Linked DNA regions of Homo sapiens: region 2 is linked to region 1. The links come from fine-mapping of genetic effects on gene expression. Tissue or cell type: whole blood. Region 1 holds a variant in brackets; the other region holds the start of a gene. All regions are shown on one strand. Distances are between the middles of the regions.

The links. PIP is the estimated chance that this variant, and not a neighbour inherited with it, causes the effect.
Region 2: STARD10 starts here. The variant in region 1 is fine-mapped to the expression of STARD10 in whole blood (TOPMed, PIP above 0.99). The same link has a PIP of 0.9 or more in blood mononuclear cells.

The regions. Positions count from the first base shown.
Region 1 is chr11:73,104,604-73,109,323 of GRCh38, reverse strand. All of the region lies in intron 2 of FCHSD2 (FCH and double SH3 domains 2), which reads left to right. Among named protein-coding and RNA genes, the nearest start is that of FCHSD2, 35 kb to the left of the region's middle. The variant G/A (reference allele first, on the strand shown) is at 2,610.
Region 2 is chr11:72,791,641-72,796,000 of GRCh38, reverse strand. STARD10 (StAR related lipid transfer domain containing 10) reads left to right here and starts at 1,954. Exons shown (of 7, transcript NM_006645.3): 1 at 1,954-3,126. RefSeq lists enhancers at 1,629-2,198, 3,330-3,829.

The sequences.
Region 1 (4,720 bases):
TGTCCATAGTTTCTATAGCAATCTACAGATTCAATGCAATCCCTATCAAAATACCAATGACATTCTTCACAGAAATAGAAAAAGCAATTCTAAAATATATATGGAACCACAAAAGACCCAGAATAGCTAGCCAAAGCTATCCTGAGCAAAAATAACAAAATTGGAGGAATCACATTACCTGACTTCAAATTATACTACAAAACAGCATGGTACTGGCATAAAAACAGACACACAGGTCAATGGAACAGAATAGAGAACCCAAAAGCAAATCCATACATCTACAGTGAACTCATTTTCGACAAAGGTGCAAAGAACATACATTGAGGAAAGGACAGTCTCTTCAATAAATGGTGCTGGAAAAACTGAATATCCGTATGCAGAAGAATGAAACCAGACCCATGTCTCTTGCCATATATAAAAACCAAATCAAATTGTGTTAAAAACTTAAATCTAGGCTGGGCGCGGTGGCTCACGCCTGTAATCCCAGCACTTTGGGAGGCCGAAGCGGGTGGATCATGAGGTCAGGAGATCGAGACCATCCTGGCTAACAAGGTGAAACCCCGTCTCTACTAAAAATACAAAAAAAAATTAGCCGGGCGCGGTGGCGGGCGCCTGTAGTCCCAGCTACTCGGGAGGCTGAGGCAGGAGAATGGCGTGAACCCGGGAAGCGGAGCTTGCAGTGAGCCGAGATTGCGCCACTGCAGTCCGCAGTCCGGCCTGGGCGACAGAGCGAGACTCCGTCTCAAAAACAAAAAACAAACAAAAAAAAAAACTTAAATCTAAAATCTCAATCTATGAAACTGCTAAAAGAAAACATTAGGTAACCTCTTCATGGCATTGGACTGGGCAAAGATTTCTTGAGTAATACTACACAAGCACAGGCAACCTAGCAAAAGTGAACAAATAGGATTACATGAAGTGAAAAAGCTTATGTACAGCAAAGGAAACAATCAACAAAGTGAAGAGATAACCCACAGAATGGGAGAAAGTGTTTGCAAACTCTTTATCTTACCAGGGATTAGTAACTAGAATATGTAATGAGCTTAAACAACTTCATAGGAAAAGATCTAATAATCTGATTAAGAAATGGGCAAAAGATCTGAGTGGACATTTTTCAAAAGAAGTCATTGACAAACAGGCATTTGAACAGGTGCAACATCATTGATCATCAGAGAAATGCATATCAAAACTACAATGAGATATTACCCCAGTTCAAATGGCGTTTATCCAAAAGACAGACAGTAACAAACACCGGCAAGGATGTGGAGAAAAGGGGACCCTCAGACAGTGTTGGTGGGAATGTAAATTAGTACAACAACTATGGAGAATAATTTGGAGTTCACTCAGAAAACTAAAGATACACTTGCCATACAATCCATCAATCACAGTGCTGGGTATATATCCAAAAGATACCCATGTCGATTGCAGTACTGTTCATAGTAGCCAAGATTTGGAAGCAACCTGAGTGTCCATCAGCAGATAAATGGATAAAGAAAACATGGTACATACACACAGTGGAGTACTATTCAGCCATAAAAAAGAATGAGATTCTGTCCTTTGCAACAACATGGATGGAACTGGAGATCATTATGTTAGTGTAATAAGCCAGACACAGAAAAGATAAATTTGCACGTTGTCATTTATTTGTAGGAGCTAAAAATGAAAACATTTGAACTCATGGAACTCGAGAGTAGAAGGAAGTTTACTGGAGGCTGGGAAGGGTAGTGAGGGTGTGTGTTTGTGGGAAGTGAGGATGGTTAATGGGTATAAACAATTAGAATAAGAAGTAGTATTTGATAGCACAACAGGGTGACAATTGGATTGTTTGTAACACAAAGCGTAAATGCTTGAGGCGATGGATACCCCATTTACTCTAATGTGATTATTACGCATTGCATGCCTGTATCAAAATATCTCATGTCCTCATCTATATATACACCTGCTGTATACCTACAAAAATTAAAAATAAAAAAAATGGCCAGGTGTGGTAGCTCATGCCTGTAATCTCAGCACTTTGGGAGGCCGAGCTGGGCAGATCACAAGGTCAGATCGACTATCCTGGCCAACATGGTGAAACCCTGTCTCTACTAAAAATACAAAACTTAGCTGGGTATGGTGGCGCATGCCTGTAATCCCAGCTACTCAGAAGGCTGAGGCTCAAGAATTGCGGAGAGTCTTGAGAATCAAGAAACCCAGGAGGCGGAGGTTGCAGTGAGCCGATATTGCGCCACTGCACTGCAGCCTGGTGACAGAGTGAGACTCCATTTAAAAATATATATATATATATAGCTTTTCTAACAAAAAATAATAGAGATGTGAAGTGGGCTTTAAAAAGTCGAGTCCAGGATATCTGGTGGTAGAGTTTTAATTTTCCACAATACAGGTATGTGTTGCTTAATGTCAGGGATATATTCTGAGAAATGCATCATTAGGTAATTTCATCCTTGTATCAACATCATAGAATGTACTTACACAAACTTAGAGTGCGTAGCCTACTGCACATGGAGGCTCTGGTCTGTTGTTCCTAGGCTACAAACCTGTCCAGCATGTTACTGTACTGAATACTTTAAGCAATTGTGATACAATGGTAAGTTTTTGTGATTCTGAAC[G/A]TAGAAAAAACACAGCATAAATATGGTATTCTAATTTTTGGGGACCCCACTTGTATATGTGGTCCATTTTTTATGGAAATGTTATGTTACTGTATTTATTTATCAATAAGTTTCATGACCCTGCAACAATGTTAAATTCTTATCTACTGTTTTGCTTAAAGTTGTAGTATTCAGACCTGTTGCAGGGATTCTTTCACTTCCTGTAACAGTTTGCACTTCAGGGTTCTTTAACAAGCAGAATACTGATTTAAGAGCCTAACTGGAGGAAATTCTTGTTTCTTTTTTCTTTTTCTTTTTTTTTTTTTTTTGGAGACAGAGTCTCATTCTGTCACCCAGGGTGGAGTGTAGTGGTGCCATCACAGCTCACTGCAGCCTTGACTTCATGGGCTCAAGCAATCCTCCTGCCTTAGCCTCCCGAATGCTGGGGATATAGGTTTATGTCACCATGTCCAGCTAATTCATGTGCTTTTTGTAGAGATGGGTTCTCACTATGTTCCCAGGCTGGTCTCGAACTCCTTGGCCAAAGCAGTCCTCCTTTTATGTTTCTCCCCTCAACTCCTCCGAGGTCCAATAAGGGAAATTTCAAGATTTTGTAAAATTAATTATTTACTTTTGGCCTCAGTTACTTTTTCTGTGAACCACAGATGTTCTCCACATAATTTCTAAAGTTCATCCCAGTTCTCTGATTTTATGATTCTGAATAATTCTGGAAATCCTTGGATGCAAATATTAGCTTGTATACAGACCTGTGAAGATAGAGGCCTTGCTTCTGCCAGGTATCTTCTATAGGTATCTTATTTACCAGATACTTTGTCAGATTTATTAGAGACCTGAAATACAATGCTTTTTCTTCATTCAGACTTAATAGATTCAAATATTATGGTTAATTCTGCCATAGACCATTTATTCAAATATTTTAAAATCTCATTTTTTGTATGATTATGTAAAACTTAAAAATAATTAGTATAATTTGAATTTATTAACACAATTATGTAAGACACCTATTGTGAGTTTTTGTACCACATATTTGTAGCCTAATAATAAATATTTATTGAGTTCTTTATGTTTTTCAAAGGACTTTTATATCCATTTATTTTACTTAATCTTCAGAACTGCCTAGTAAGTATATTTTGTAGATGTAAAAATTGAGGCTTAGAGTAGTAAAGATACTTATCCAATGTTAGGATTAGAAAGATTTAGATCTTATGATTTCTTCTCTATTCCCTTTTCACTTCCCAAGTTATCTTTCTTTTGGAGTTCTTCCCTAGGAAAGTAATGTTACCAAATAAAGAGCCTGGTAGATTCTGGGGCATGGTGGTGTCTTATATAGAGGGTGTACTGTAGACAGTGGAAGGGAAGGTGTGATAAAGCATGGAGCTAATGTAAATGATTATTATCCTGTTTCATTGTCCTTATTCTCTTTATCTTTGGCTTCATTTTTATCACCACCTTTTATAGCACATTATTGTGGAAAGAGTCTTAGATGAAATTGATACTAGGTTCTTTTCCTAAGTCTTCCCCCCACCTAACCAGAGCTACTTAGTAGCAATTTTATGTGTGTCTTTTAATTGCCCTGATTTGTACTTTCCTCATTTATGGAATGGGAATAACCTATTCTGGTTACCTTATAGAGTTATTGTCAAGTCAGGTAGGATAAGATGGGAAAGGACTTTGAAAAACTTGAAGTACTTTACTAGCAGGGATTATTATTGTTTTTACATGACAGCCTCTGTGGCTTGGTCTGTTGATAGGCTGCTTTGAAATAAATGCATTCATTTAAACGTGTAAAACTATATTGTAAAATATAGATTTTCACCATTTGGTACTATAGCTCTCTTGCTTTCAATTAGTAAAGTTGGCCAGGCACGGTGACTCAGGCCTGTAATCCCAGCACTTTGGGAGGCCGGATCACTGAGGTCAGGAGTTTGAGACCAGCCTGGCCTGGTGGTGAAACCCCGTCTCTACTAAAAATACAAAAATTAGCCGGGTGCGGTGGCACGTGCCTGTGGTCCCAGCTACTTGGGAGGCTGAGGCAGGAGAATGGCTTGAACCCGGGAGGTGAAGGTTGCAGTGAGATGAGATTGCGGTACTGCACTCCAGCCTGGGTGACA
Region 2 (4,360 bases), 310 kb after region 1:
ACAGAATGAGACCCTGTCTCAAAAAAACAAAAACAAGGCCGGGCACAGTGGCTCACACCTGTAATCCCAGCACTTTGGGAGGCCGAGGTGGGCGGATCACACGGTCAGGAGATCGAGACCATCCTGGCTAACACGGTGAAACCCCATCTCTACTAAAAAAATACAAAAAAAAAAATTAGCCCGGCGTGGTGGCGGGTGCCTGTAGACCCAGCTACTCAGGAGGCTGAGGCAGGAGAATGGCATGAACCCGGGAGGCGGAGCTGGCAGTGAGCCCCAGATCATGCCACTGCACTCCAGCCTAGATGACAGAGCAAGTCTCCGTCTCAAAAAAAAAAACAAAAAACAAAAAAAAAACCACAAACGAACAGCCCCTGCCCTCCCCCCAAAAAAGACAAACTGCATCTCACACACAGGTGACCCCTGTGAATACAGTCTCTGAGGAGTGATGGAAGAGGAAGCCCTGTGAGAGGTGCAGACTGCTACCCTCTAGAACACCAGGATGCCTAAATAGTAGAGGGCAGTTTCATTAGCGACATCAGTTTGCAAACTGAAAAGAGACACTCTCCTGTAGGTACCAAAGGTGCTCTCTCTTTGTATAGGGAAAAGGCAGGCTGGTTGTTTTTTGTTTTTGTTTTTTGAGACGGAGTCTCGCTCAGTCGCCCAGGCTGGAATGCAGTGGTGCGATCTCGGCTCACTGCAACCTCCACCTCCCAGGTTCATGCCATTCTCCTGCCTCAGCCTCCCGAGTAGCTGGGACTACAGGCGCCCGCCACCACACCCAGCTAATTTTTTTGTATTTTTAGTAGAGACGGGGTTTCACCATGTTAGCCAGGATGGTCTCAATCTTCTGACCTCGTGATCCGCCCGTCTTGGCCTCCCAAAGTGCTGGGATTACAGGCGTGAGCCACCACTCCCGGCCTAGGCTGGTTTATGACTCACAGGGTCTGTATTTCACAATAATCATACATATTCAGCAGGTTTTGGGGAAAAGCTATACATATTTATGAGGGGATGTGAGTGCATGCACAATGGGTAAACACCTGTAACATATGTTCCATGTTCACTTTGGGATGGGGTTTTTGCGTTAAAGTGAGGTGGAATTTGGTTCTTTGCATCATAAGGTGGACTATAGGACACAAACACAGTTTGCGTGCAGTCTCTATGAGCTTGCTGAAACTGGCCTGAGGTCTGCAGTTACTTATCAGGAAAGAATGTTTGTAAGGCCTGTCCTCTGTCGATCAGCGTTGTAGTGGTCTGAGTTGTAAATCTCAGTAAAGAAGAGTCTGACAATTTGCATGATAGCTCCTATTGCTAGGGGTTTAGTAAGAGTGTGGTTTTTCTGGCAGCAGTAGAAATTTAAGAAGTTGCCATGCCAGCTGACAGCTGAGCCCTGAGGTAGGCAACGTTTGTTTCCTTAACCTTAACCTTAAGGTCCATCGTAGTTGATAAAAAGGCATCTGGCCAGGCCTGATGGCTCACGCCTATAATCCCAGCACTTTGGGAGGGTGAGGCGGGAGGCCAGCAGTTCTGGGGCCACTGCACTCCAGCCTGACAGACAGAGACCCTGTCTCAAAAAATAAATAAATAAAAAAGATAAAGGGGCATTTGTCTTGATCGCTCAGATCACACAACTAATAAGTAGCATTCTTTCTAAAAGCCGCAACAATGCTACTCCTCTCTTATAAGAGCTACTGTGTAACTCCTGCCCAACTCAAACCCACAGGCCCAGGCTCAGAACACTTGGCTCCATTGCTTCACTGTTTCCCTGCTAGCACGAACCCCCCAAACTCCATCTCCCAACATGCCGCGGGCCCCCTTTCTGTCAGCCTGACTCTTGAGCTCCTGAGAAATGTAGTTTTTCCAGCGGCCCAGCCCCAGAAAGGTCCTAGCCAAGAACTACAGTTCCCATGTGGCAATGCGCGCGCCATTCCGGTGGAATTCACCGCGGTCTCCAGTTTGCCATGATGGATGCCAGAACCTGCACGTGGGGCTTGGTGACGCGATGACTGAGATGCTGGAGTCCCCGGTCAGAAGGACGATGCCGAGCGCGCCGTATTTTCTCCTGCCTCTCCTCAGATCGCCGCCGTTGTTGGGCTGTGGAGACGTCTCAACCAAAGTGGAGCCGACAGAGGCCCCGGGAGCCGTGGTGACAGAGCGGCCACAACCACTAGGGGGCGGGAGGCAGAGCGGCCCCTAGTCCGCCCCTAGTCCGGGACCTCTGGGCGGTCCCGGGCGGGAAGCGCACGCGCAAACGCGGGGCTTCGCGGCCGCTGTAAACACCAAAGAGCGCCTGCGCAAGCCGAGAGTCTCGGGATCGACACGTGGGGGCGCCTGAGCGAAGATAACCGTAATAAATAGTAACCTAACGGTCCAGTCATCGTTCTGTGGTCCTTTCTTTTATGATTCACAAGGAATGACCCTCTTCATCGCCTCTCCTAATTCAGTCCTCACAACAGTCCTTTTACAAATGGGACAACAGGTTAGAGGAAGTCAGGCAGATTTCCAGCATCATAGAGAGTAAAGGACCAGGGAAGGATCAGGATTCAAGGACTGCACCCAGGCTCTGCTTCCAGCTTGCTGTGTGACTTTGGGTAATTTTGTTCCCTTAGGGAACTGAGCTTTCTCATTTGTAAATGCAAACAGGCTGTTGGGAGGATCAAATGAGATCCAGGGGTGAAAACAGCTTAGTTTACTTTCAGGAATTTACCCACGCGGTATATAAAGGCAAAATATTATTATAGTCAGGTGATTGTAGATTGAGGAACCCATTTCCTCATTCTGCAAATTGCAAACCTGAGGGCCCAAAGAGGGACAGGGGCTTGCCCCAGGTCTCAGCAGGCTGTGAGCAAGAGCTAAAGCCTAATCCTCCTGCCTTTGGGCCTGGAGCCCTTCCTTGTACCCCAGGGGTCAGTGTCTTTGTTGGATACAGGCTTAGATTGACTGACTGTACCCTGAGAACCTAGGGGAGTCCCTGTTCCCAATTCTTCTCCTACCCCCACCTTGGCCTGATGGAGGAAGACCCTGCTGTGTTGAGATGAGCACCAGAGCCAAGAAGCTGAGGAGGATCTGGAGAATTCTGGAGGAAGAGGAGAGTGTTGCTGGAGCTGTACAGACCCTGCTTCTCAGGTCAGTGGCCCAAGTAAGGGAAAGAACCCAGGTGTGACAGATGAGGGGGCAGCACTAAGGGGACAGACTCTGAATGGAAAGGAGTGGGAAGGCAGTGGACACTGTTTCTGAGCTTGGGAGGAATTGGGTACTCAGGTAACTCCATCTGGGGGCAGTGGAGCTGGAGGTGATACCTGGGCTGGCCTGGCTGATGAGAAGGGGAAGTGATGCGCATTGAGCTGAGGTCTAGGAGCCACTCCCCAGCCAGGTGAAGCGAGGTGGCACCTAGGCACACCATGGCACCTGCAGGATCATGCAGCTAACCCCAGGGAAGGGGACTTTTCTCTGACCCTTGGAGCGGTGGAGCTGGGCTGTATGCAGCTGATTCTCTCTAGAGTGCTCTTAGAGGTTTTGGGGGTAGGTTGGGGGAAGGGCTGGGAGACCCTGAGGTCTCATTACAGATTGGGCCTCCCCAGGCAAGTCATGAAAGGCAGGTATATGTAGAAATAGAAATCCAAGATCCTTCAAGATATCCCAGATAGGCCAGGCACGGTGGCTCACGCCTGTAATCTCAGCACTTTGGGAGGCTGAGGCGAGCGGATCACCTGAGGTTGGGGGTTGAGATCAGCCTGACCAAAGTGGAGAAACTCCATCTCTACTAAAAATACAAAAAAAAAAATTAACCGGGCGTTGTGGCGGGCACCTGTAGTCCCAGCTACTCGGGAGGCTGGGGCAGGAGAATGGCGTGAACCCGGGAGACGGAGCTTGCGGTGAGCCGAGATGGCGCCACTGTACTCCAGCCTGGCTGACAGAGTAAGACTCTGTCTCAAAAAAAAAAAAAAAAAAAAAAAAAATTAGCCAGGTGTGGTGGTGTATGCCGGTAGTCCCAGCTACTCGGGAGGCTGAGGCAGAAGAATCGCTTGAACCCAGGAGGCGGAGGTTGTCGTGGGCCGAGATGGTGCCATTGCACTCCAGCCTGGGCAACAAGAACGAAACTCCGTCTCAAAACAAAACAAAACAAAACAAAACACAACAACAAAAAGGTATCCAAGATAATTCAATGGAATTATCTGGAGGTGGATCTTGGATTCACCTCCAAGCATTTAATTATCTGGGCCTTCACTTATCATTTCTGTTTTTCAGCCAGAGAAACTGAGGCTAAAGAAGGAAAAGGACCTCTTTTTTTTTTTTTGAGACGGAATTTCACTCTTGTTGCCCAGGCTGGAGTGCAAGGGTGCGATCTTGGCTCACTGCA